Regions from separate parts of the Homo sapiens genome. Here regions 1, 2 and 4 are each linked to region 3. Evidence: fine-mapped expression QTL. A gene starts in region 3. Each other region holds a variant in brackets. All regions are shown on one strand. Distances are from middle to middle. Region 1 overlaps HIP1 (huntingtin interacting protein 1). Region 2 overlaps HIP1 (huntingtin interacting protein 1). Region 3 holds the start of HIP1 (huntingtin interacting protein 1). Region 4 overlaps RHBDD2 (rhomboid domain containing 2).

The links.
Region 1: its variant is fine-mapped to the expression of HIP1 in monocytes after Pam3CSK4 (Quach 2016, PIP 0.95).
Region 2: its variant is fine-mapped to the expression of HIP1 in tibial nerve (GTEx, PIP above 0.99).
Region 4: its variant is fine-mapped to the expression of HIP1 in whole blood (INTERVAL, PIP 0.95).

What each region holds. Positions count from the first base shown.
Region 1 is chr7:75,625,004-75,627,706 of GRCh38, forward strand. All of the region lies in intron 1 of HIP1 (huntingtin interacting protein 1), which reads right to left. Among named protein-coding and RNA genes, the nearest start is that of HIP1, 110 kb to the right of the region's middle. RefSeq lists an enhancer at 1-91. The variant A/G (reference allele first, on the strand shown) is at 1,170.
Region 2 is chr7:75,605,986-75,608,613 of GRCh38, forward strand. The region is part of intron 1 of HIP1 (huntingtin interacting protein 1); the gene reads right to left. Among named protein-coding and RNA genes, the nearest start is that of SPDYE5, 110 kb to the left of the region's middle. RefSeq lists a silencer at 2,373-2,573. The variant C/G (reference allele first, on the strand shown) is at 1,182.
Region 3 is chr7:75,737,359-75,740,061 of GRCh38, forward strand. HIP1 (huntingtin interacting protein 1) reads right to left here and starts at 1,583. Exons shown (of 31, transcript NM_005338.7): 1 at 1,443-1,583. The coding sequence starts at 1,562. RefSeq lists a silencer at 1,371-2,360.
Region 4 is chr7:75,879,609-75,882,311 of GRCh38, forward strand. RHBDD2 (rhomboid domain containing 2) reads left to right here. Exons shown (of 4, transcript NM_001040456.3): 2 at 2,221-2,628. Among named protein-coding and RNA genes, the nearest start is that of RHBDD2, 1.9 kb to the left of the region's middle. The variant G/A (reference allele first, on the strand shown) is at 1,418.

The DNA of each region.
Region 1 (2,703 bases), 110 kb before region 3:
GCTCACTGCAGTGCCTCAGCCTGCCTCCTGAGTAGCTGGGAATTACTGGCACCTGCCACCACGGCCAGCTAATTTTTGTATTTTTACAATTAGTAGAGATGGGGTTTCATTATGTTGGCCAGGCTGGTCTCGAACTCCTGACCTCAGGTGATCCACCCACCTTGGCCTCCCAAAGTGCTGGGATTATAAATATAAGCCACCATTGTTTAAGTTTTTATAGAGATGGGGTCTCACTCTGTTGCTCAGGCTGGTCTCAAACTCCTGGGTAGGTGTATTGAGCACCCGGTCAAGTGTTGCATTAAGTCAACTCACAGATCACTAAGACTTAGTCCTGGTTTCAGAGTGAGGTCTAGATGGGGAGAAAGTGATGGCATTGTGTCCACCTTGTGAGAGGAGAGAGATTGGTGGGTATGGACTGTATGGAGGCCTGGGGTGTGGGCATCTATCTGAGGCTTAAGGATTGGTGATGGCTGCCTGAAGGAAGAACCAACCTAACCAGCTGAGAAGCTGGTGTGGAAAGGGGGCCTGCCAGGGCATTCAGGTAGAGATGACAGCATGACTGAGCCACAGAAGTGAGCAAGGCCCAGAGTTGGGGACTGGTGAACAGTCACTGTTTCTAGTGAGTAGAAAAGCAGAGATGGGGCGCTATAGTTTAAATATGTGTGTCCCCTCCAAAATTCATGTTGAAACTTAATCTCCATTGTGATGGTATGAAGAGGTAGGGACTTTTCGGAAATGATTAAGTCTTTTATAAGGACAAATGCCCTTATAAAAGAGGCTTTGGAGGCCGGGCGTGGTGGCTTATGCCTGTAATCCCAGCACTTTGAGAGGCTGAGGCAGGTGGATCGTTTGAGCCCAGGAGTTTGAGGCCAGCCTGGGTAACATGGTGAATCCCTGTCTCTTAAAAAAAAGAGGCTTTGGAGAGCTGCTTGCCCTTTCTACCTCTTCTGCATGCGAAGGCACACCAGTCATCTCTTCTACCTTTTTTTTTGCCATGTGAGGATGCGGCGAGAAAATGCCATCTATGGAACAGGTTCTTGCCAGTCACTGAATCTGGTGGCGCTGTGATGTTGGACTTCCCAGCCCCCAGAACTGTGAGAAATAAGCTTCTATTGTTTATAGACCCAGTCTATGGTATTTTGTTATAGCAGCAAGAATGGACTAAGACC[A/G]GGGCCATGACCTGGAAGCCTAATTTATAGAGCCATAGGGCAGCCGCCCAAGGAAACTTCCCCTGTACTTACTACCCAGCTTGAAACACATTAGCAAAAAGAATTCTTGAAAGCTAAAACCTCAAAGCCTAAGTCCTTAAAGAGTAAGTAAGCCAATGGATACATATACTTAGGTGAATGCACAAGGATTTCACCCCAATAGTGGAAAATGTTATTAATAGAGGACAGATCACAATGAAATGATACATCGCCCCCTGGTCATCTGGAATTATAGTGATACTAACATTGACTGAATGATACATGTCAAGGCATTGGTCTAAACACTTTATATGTGGTAATTCATCTGCCCTCACCACAACCCGGTATGGAAGGTAATATGCCTATCCCCACTGTACAAGAGGGAAAGCCTGGCAAAGGGAGACCTCAGTAGCCCACCCAGGTAAGCACACAGTGGAAACTGGTTTTGAACCCATGAACCCAGAACCCATGGATGGCCTGGACCACTGTGATATATTATTTCTAGATCTCCAGCATGGTGAAAACAAAAATTAAAGTCTACAAAACCGTATTATGGTATGGCCCCATTTTGTTTAAATATGTGTGTATTTGTCTGTGTGTACATGCTTGTGTTTGATTGAATCAAATGAAAATTTGGCTGTTTTTGACTTATATAAAAGGCAATTTCATAAGGTTCAACCTAGTGCATGCACACAAACACACACACACACACACACACACACAGAAAAGTCTGTAAGAACCTACACTAAATTGTTAACAGTAGTTTTAGATGGTGGAAAAATATTTGATCTTTATTTTCTTTATACCTTTTCATATTTTCTGAAAAGTGGCAGAAGTTTAACATTTCTGTGGATTACCTGTTTCCTTACTGCTGGTGCTGATGACCTCAGCTATGTGGTATTAAAATGTACTCAGTGTGCAGGAGCCCCAGCCCGGCAAACTACAGCATCAGGGTCCAGTGCACTCAAGGCTATCTCTCCTCGGGGACAGAGAAGCCAAAGTGTGTACTTCAATGAAGCAAGTGCTTAGAACAGCACATGGCATATCAAGGGCACTCTATAAACCTTTTCCAAATAAATGAATGAATGGTCACTTTCTCCACCCCACTTCCTACACCACTTGGCAGAATCAATCATTCCTACTTAGTTTCTATAGGAGTTTCCTTAAATCTCTATAGAATAAAGAACCCAGTAACCTGCCCAGGTAAGTGGTAGAGACAGATTTTGAACCCCAGGACCCAAGGCCTTGACCACTCTGAAATACTGTTCCTAGATCAAAGTGAGGGGCCCTTTGAGATTTGACTTCTCTGAGCCTCAGTTTCTCCAGCTTGAACATGAAAATAGGAATCACACTTTTCTGAGAATTGCATGAGACACGGTGCTCTGTCACCTCCAGCCTTGTTCCAGTTGATGTTACTTGGGTAGGGCTGAGAGGGCCTTGTTTATTGTGGGTAGCATCAAGTCCACACCCAGGGCCATGGCCAGAGAACTGCCCATTTGACCTTGCCTCCCTTACT
Region 2 (2,628 bases), 130 kb before region 3:
ACCACAGGCACATACCACTATGCCTGGCTAGTTGGTTTTTTTAAATAGAGACGGGGTCTCATTATGTTGCCCAGGCTGGTCTTGAACTCCTGGCCTCAAGCAATCCTATTGCTTCAACCTCCTAAAGTGCTGGGCTTATAGGTGTGAGACACCATGCCCAGCCAGAAGCTATTTAATAGCATAAAAGTACAGGAAAAATGGAATCAAAATGAAAGATGTGAGAATGGAAATGACCCAATATAATGTGAGCTGTAAAACGAGCTTCAGTAGGACTGGCAGATAGGAGCTCCGGGTTACAGGGAGACAGCAGAAGGATGCATCCATGGTGCCTCCAAGATGATGCAGAGACTTTAGGAGGCCGAGGGGGGCAGATCACCTGAGACCAGGAGTTCAAGACCAGCCTAGCCAACATGGTGAAACCCCATCTCTACTAAAATACAAAAATTAGCTGAGTGTGGTGGCTCATGCCTATAATCCCAGCTACTTGGGAGGCTGAGGCAGAATTGCTTGAACACGGGAGGTGCAGGTTGCAGTGAGCCGAGATCCCGCCATTGTACTCCTGCCTGGGCGACAGAGTGAGACTCCGTCTCAAAAAAAAAAAAGATGATGCAGAGGCTCTGGACCTAGATGAGGGGAGGATAGCAGCAAGGGCCACAAGCTGGGGAGACACTGTAAGAAAAGGACCCGAAGGAACAATGAACAATGAGGCCAGGCGGCTCTTGGGTAAGAAATAGCCATTTTTAAAAGAATGAGGAAGTGAACTAGCGGTAACGGTGGTGATAATTATCAAGCTGATGGCACTAATGAGTGCTTAGACCAGGCCCCTTTGTATGAATTATCTTATATAAAGTCTTACAACTCTACAACCTACCAGTAGACACTTAATAGTATTAATCAGCTCCATTCTGCAGATGAAGAAACCAAGGTACCTGAGATCTCTTAGGCTTAGAAAGGCTAAGTAAACCTGGGTGGGGTGGCTCATGTCTGTAATCCCAGCACTTTGGGAGGTTGAGGCTGGAGGATTGCTTGAGAACAGGAGTTTGAGACCAGCCTGGGCAATAGAGCGAGACCCCATCTCTAAAAAAAAATTTTTTTTTAAATAGCCAGGTGTGGTGGTGCACACCTGTAATCCCAGTACTTTGGGAGGCTTAGGTGGGAGGATTACTTGAGGCCAGGAGTTT[C/G]AGAACAGCCTGAGCAACACAGTAAGGCACCATCTCTACAAAAAAAAAAGAGTTGTTTTTTGTTTTGTTTTTTTTTTTTTTGAGACAGAGTCTTGCTCTGTTGCCCAGGCTGGAGTGCAGTGGTGTGATCTCAGCTCACTGCAACCTCTGCCTTCTGGGTTCAAGCGATTCTCCTGTCTCAGCTTCCCAGTAGCTGGGATTGCAGGTGCACACCACCAAGCCCGGCTAATTTTTGTATTTTTAGTAGAGATGGGATTTCACCATGTTGGTCAGGCTGGTCTTGAATTCCTGACCTCAGGTGATCCGCCCATCTTGGCCTCTCAAAGTGCTGGGATTACAGACATGAGCCACCATGCCCAGCCTAAAAAAAAAAAAAAAAAAAAAAATTTGTCAAGTGCGGTGGCCGTGCCTGTAGTCCCAGGTACTTGGGAGGCTGAGATAGGAGGATCACAGGAGGATCACTTGAGCCCAGGAGTTTGAAGCTGCTGTGAGCCATGATCACGCCACTGCACTCCAGCCTGGGGACCAGAGTGACACCCTATCTCTAAAATAAATAAATAAAAATAAAAAAAGAACTGCTAAGTAAACTGCCCAGGCCCGTAACATCAGCAAGTGTAGGGCGGGGATTCAGTCTTTGCAGTGTGACCAAGCTCAGGCTCAGGATCACAACCTCGGCACTAGACAAGGCCCTCTACACCACAGAGACACGATCAGAATCCACAGACTGGAAAAATGCATTAAAATTCACAAGATGAAATCCAGTAGGTACAAAGGAAATTTTCTATACTTAGGCCTAAACTCACTGGCACAAGGGAGCCGTGACTCAAAGCAGCACTTGTGAAAAGAATGAAGGTGTTTTGGCTGGGCACATGGCTCACGCCTGTAATCCTAGCACTTTGGGAGGCTGAGGTAGGTGGATCACGAGGTCAGGAGTTCAAGTTCGGCCTGGCCAAGATGGTGAAACCTCGTCTCTACTAAAAACACACAAAAAATTAGCCGGGCGTGGTGGTGGGCACCTGTAATCCCAGCTGCTCGGAAGGCTGAGGCAGAAAATTGCTTAAACCCGGGAGGCGGAGAACGCTGTGAGCCGAGATCACGCCACTGCACTCCAGCCTGGGTGACAGAGAGAAACTCCGTCTCAAAAGAAAACAAAAAAAAGAATTAAGGTGTTTTATTTGGCTGCTAACTTAATAATAGCAAGATTTTGATACGGTTGATGAACATGCAAGTCTGATCTCTCTGGATGCATTAAAAGGAGGGAACGTATGGTTCCAGTTCTCTACACAGATAAGGCCATGCGTGAAACACTATTCAGTTTCAGGCTTTATACATTATGAAGGAAACTAACAAGCTGGACCATTTCCAAAAAAGAGTGACCTGGATTGAAATGGACTTAAGATCTGAAGAAAATTTAGAGAAATATCAGTATTCTGAAGCGTGACCATCT
Region 3 (2,703 bases):
TTGAGACGGAGTTTCGCTCTTGTTGCCCAGGCTGGAGTGCAGTGGCGCCATCTCGGCTCACTGCAACCTTCACCTCCCAGATTCAAGCAATTCTGCTGGCCTCAGCCTCCCAAGTAGCTGGGATTACAAGCGTCTGCAACCACGCCCAGCTAATTTTTTGTATTTTTAGTAGAGACAGGGTTTCACCATGTTGGCCAGGCTGGTCTCAAACTCCTGACGTCAGGTGATCCACCCGCCTCGGCCTCCCAAAGTGCTGGGATTACAGGTGTGAGGTACCGCGCCCGGCCAAAAGCTCTATTCTTTGAAAGATTCCATATACAGAACCTTCAGTCAGATTCTCACTGTCTTTTCTAACTAAAATCCCAAAGCCCTTTCCCTCCAACTGTGTTTGGGGGAAGTATTCCTCGCATAACACATCAGGGGACCAGCCTCTGGAGAGGGGGACCCAAATGGATCTTCAAAGGTTCCACTCTGAGCACAAGAGTGTAGAAGAAATCTGCCCCTCCAGCATTGGCACTGGGATTAAAAGAAGCGTTGTACTCTTTGAAATGGATTTTACATACAAATGAATTGATGAACACCATCAACATGTCAGCTTAATTCAGCCCAATCAATACACCAGGCATTAAAAACTCGGAGAAAAAAATGGATTGTGGCTTTTTGTTGATGACACTGAGGAATTTTGGCCCCAAGCCCTGGCCAGGCAGGACAAATAGGGCAGTCTGCCTATTAGCTGTCAGGCACATCTTGGGGGATAAAACCAAGACCCCAAGTCAGGGCTCAGGGGCACCATGGTCTCCACTTTAGCCCCCAAAGTAATTTTCCCACAAAGTGGCCACACTTTGCATTTCCTACATTCCTTTTCCCTGCTCCGACCCCTTCCGCCCGGCCTCAGAGCTGACAGCTGGGGCTGGCCAGAGCCAAGCAAGAGGCATCGAGAAAGGGGGATGCTAAGGGGTGGGGGGTGGGAAGGGATGTCAATGCAACCAAGAAGTGATCGGAGGGGAAGAGAGGTCCCCTCACCCTTCACATTCCCAGCCCGGCGCCCCCACTCTCCGCCCCCACACTTGAGCCTCCAAGTGGCTCCCGTGCGCTTCCCTTGTTTAGGGGCAACCCTTCCATTCCGCCCCTTTTCAGTTCCTTCCCCTCTCACCTCATCTTGGGACTCCTGCCCGGTACCCAGCCGATCAGGCTCCTCTTGGCCACGCATCCTGCCATCTCCTCCGAGCCCGCCTCTGCCCTTCTCCCCAGGCCAGCTGGGGTACCCTGGGGTCCCCGACCTTCCTGGGATCGCCCAGATCTGCACGTCAATGCCCCCGCTCACTACACCCTCGCCCCGTCTTCAACTGGGGCCTGCAAGACTCCTACTCCCTTCAAAGCCCCTCCCGGACACCGCGTCCCTCAGGGTGCCCCAGGGATGCCCCGGGGTCCCCCGTCCTCACCTGAGTCCGCTCGAAGCTCTCGCGCTCCGCCGCCTCCAGCCCAGCGCCGACCCCGCGCCGGCTCAGCACCTTGGGCAGTGGGTTGGGCACCTGCTTCATGGAGCTGGCCATCCGATCCATGTCGCCGCGAGGAGCCGAGTCAGGGGCCCTCGGCTGCCCCGGGATCCCCACGGCGCCGCCCGCCCCGCCCTACCCGCGGGGATCCGGCGCTAACGGGACGGCTCCCGCCTGCCATTGGCTGTGAGTTCTGCCAGTCTTCCAGAGACCCCGCCCCTCGCCGAACGGCTTCCCCGCCCGCCCCCGCCCCTTCAGGAGCCCCTCCGCTGGCTCGGCCCCGACTAGCCTCTCGGGGCCTCGAGGCGCGTGGTGACTGGTCTGGAGTCCTGTCAGTCACCGTGGTCCCGCCGTTCTAGGCAGGGCCGGGGCGGGGTGCGGACGGGGCGAGGCCTGGATGGGGCGTGGCCTGGGCGGGCTGCCCTGATATGCCCTCGCTCGCCCCGCCCCCGCCCGCGCACCGCCCTCTCCTCCCCTCGGCCGCAGTCCCCGCGCGCCCCGAGCGTGCTGCCCTCCGCCAAGCGCCGCCCACTACCCTGCCCGCTCCTGCAGGGGGCTATCCCGCGACGGCCCGTGGAGATGGGCGGGGATGACGCGGGCCGGGCAGTGGGGCCTCCCCCGGGGGAATCCCAGCCCGCCTGCGAATAGCCCGTTAGCTCCTTCCGGGCCTGGGACCCGGGAGCGCCGGACTGACCAGCCCTGCGGCCGCAGCCCGGGAAAGCGCAGCCCCGCGGGCGGGGCGCAGCGTGGGCGCCTGGCCGGATCCGGCTCAATGGGTGGCCGCCCCCACCCAGCTCCCAGGCTTCCCCGTCCTGCACTTCTCCATTCTGCCCCTGCCCATGCCCTCTGCAAGGATCGCAGAGCCCAGGTCCCGGAGTTCGGGGCTGAGTCCGCGGGCACCTCCCGGGACCTGCCTCCCAAACCTCATCAAAGGAACCCGTCAGAGCTTATTTGTTGGTAGAAAGCCCTGTAGACACTTTCGGTTTATCTTAGGCTCTGAGCCGCGCGTCCCATCCTGCTCAGACGTCAGCCAGGGTACCAGCAAGCAGAGAGAAGTGTGATGCTTAGCAGGAGTGCTGGAGAAAGTTAAAAGTTTTCCGTTAAACTCCAATTTAGGTGTGTTTTTGTTTTTGTTTTTGTTTGTTTTTTTTTTTTTTTTTGGTTTCATTTGGAGTCAGTCTCCCTCTGTCGCCCAGGCTGGAGTGCA
Region 4 (2,703 bases), 140 kb after region 3:
CCATTTCACATACACACCTACGTCTGCTTTAGGCCTAAGCCCCACTGAAAAACGTTTTTCTCTCACCTACATCACGACAATTGGACTTTATCCACAAACCCCTATAAGCCCTATAAACGTCCTGCCCTCTTGAGATTTGGAATTTCTTCTGCTTTTTCATCTGTATCTTAATCTTGACTGCCATTCCCAGCTCATGGGGGTACCAGGGTGTCTTCTGCCTTTGGAGAGAAGTGTTTGTTTTTCTCTAGGGGAGAGAAATTTTGCAGACCAATTAAGTATAAACATCCATTCCTGAAAGACATTCCTAGTCTCCGTGTCTTCCTCATTTTCTCGAGAGGAACACAGGAAATTTGCATATCTCCTGCTGTTTTGCAAAGCACACACACTGATATGTATTAATTTCGTTTAACCCTCACAAGGATCCCATGACGTAGGACCTGTTATTGGCCCGTTATCTAGATAAGATTGAGGTTTCATGCAGAGAATCGCAGAGCTGTTGCGTCATGCAATTGAGATAGGAATCTATATTTTTTTTTTTATTCTGTGATGTTTTGGAACTAGAGCCTTCGGGTAGATAATCTCCAAATCATGTACAGTTGCTTCTAGAATCTTTTCATGTTTATACTTGGAATTTCAGTTTTGGAAATACTCAACAAATAATGAAGTACTCTTCAGATAATGAAGCCTCTGGTGATGGCCAGACTGAGGTATATGGTTCCATAGCCTGCTTCCCCACTCCAATCTAAAACTGTTCCCCCCACCCTAGGTATACATAGCACCACCTCACAGACAGAAGCAAAATGCCAACCTAACCTTAACCTCCCACTTTCTGGGGTTCACTGCTTCCCTGGGTGTGGGTTTCGTGGATATGTGAGCGTTAGAGACGTAAGGGACCTTTGAAGTCCTCAATCTAACTCTTGTTACTTTACAGTGAGGAAACTGACGCCTAGAGGACCTGTGACATGATTAAACTCAGCCAGCCTGGATGTAATAGAGCCAAGATTCCACTCCAAGTCTTTAGACTCCCAAGTCCAATATTACCATCAGTTCTTTGGTCTCTCTCCTTGAGTTTAGTCGTATTTGGGCATGCAGGGACATAAAAATACTTAAGAGATAACCACTTCTAAAATTTTTTTAGAGATAGGGTCTTCGTCTTACCCAGGCTGGAGTGCAGAGATGCAATCATAGCTCACTGCAGCGTTCAACTCCTGGAATCAAGCGAGCCTCCTGCCTCAGCCTCCCAAGTAGCTGGGACTACAAGTACACATCATCACACCTGACTAATTTTTAAATTTTTTTTAAAGACGGGGGTCTCACTATGTTACCTAGGCTGGTCTTGAACTCCTGGGCTCAAGTGATCCTTCCACCTAAGCCTCCCAAAATGCTGGGATTACAGGTGTGAGCCACCATGCCTGGC[G/A]ATAACTGCTTTTAGAAAAATAAAAGGCCAGGAATGATGGTTCGTATGTGTAGTTTCAGCACTTTGGGAATTCAAGGCAGGAGGATCACTGGAGGCCAGGAGTTCAAGGCTAGCCTGGGCAACGTAGCAAGACTTTGTCTCTACAAATAAAAATTTAAAAAAAGGAAAAGGAGGATTCTTTGATGTCTTATTACATATAAAGCATCAGTTTACCTGTGAGATCGGATAAGCACTTTCTGAGGAGACTTATAATTTCTATAATCTTTATTGTTAATGATAGTGTTATAATTCTTACAGCTGCAAAATAATTCATGGTCCCTTTTTTCTTCCTCTGAACAGCCACTATGGAAGGAGGGGTCAGGATTACAGCAGAGGAGACTGGCACACAGAGTGTTAAGTGACACCCACTCAATCCACCCCGAAGCTGTTACACTTAATTAACCCTCAAACTGCCCAGTGAGGTAGGTCAGTATGAAAACCTGAAAAAGGATTATAAAGCACTTTACAAATTCAGAGACTGCCCTCTACCGAAAAGTATTATTTTTTTCCCTCTGGAAGTCAGTTACCGCTAAGAGTTGCACCAGGCCTGGGGAAGTGTAGGGATTAGATATTCATGCCTCTCCTTTGAGGCTCTGGGTCCTTCATTGTTGAACGCACTGCTTGTATTGCCTCCTGCTGCGACTCACTGGCTCTCACTTCTCTGTCACGGAGGGGGGCTCTCTGCCTTTCCTAGGCGGCTTATAACCTGGCTTCCCTCCTGGGAGCAACCCGCCGCCAGGCCTCTAACCCGACTCCCTCTGCAGTTTACAGGCTGGTAACCTACATCTTTGTCTACGAGAATCCCATCTCCCTGCTCTGCGGCGCTATCATCATCTGGCGCTTTGCTGGCAATTTCGAGAGAACCGTGGGCACCGTCCGCCACTGCTTCTTCACCGTGATCTTCGCCATCTTCTCCGCTATCATCTTCCTGTCATTCGAGGCTGTGTCATCACTGTCAAAGCTGGGGGAAGTGGAGGATGCCAGAGGTTTCACCCCAGTGGCCTTTGCCATGCTGGGAGTCACCACCGTCCGTTCTCGGATGAGGCGGGCCCTGGTGTTTGGCATGGTTGTGCCCTCAGTCCTGGTTCCGTGGCTCCTGCTGGGTGCCTCGTGGCTCATTCCCCAGACCTCTTTCCTCAGTAATGTCTGCGGGCTGTCCATCGGGCTGGCCTGTATCCTTCCTAGCAGAGAGCTATAGAACAACGCATGTCAAAGGGTGAACCAGGCTGGAGGGTCTGGGGTGTCAA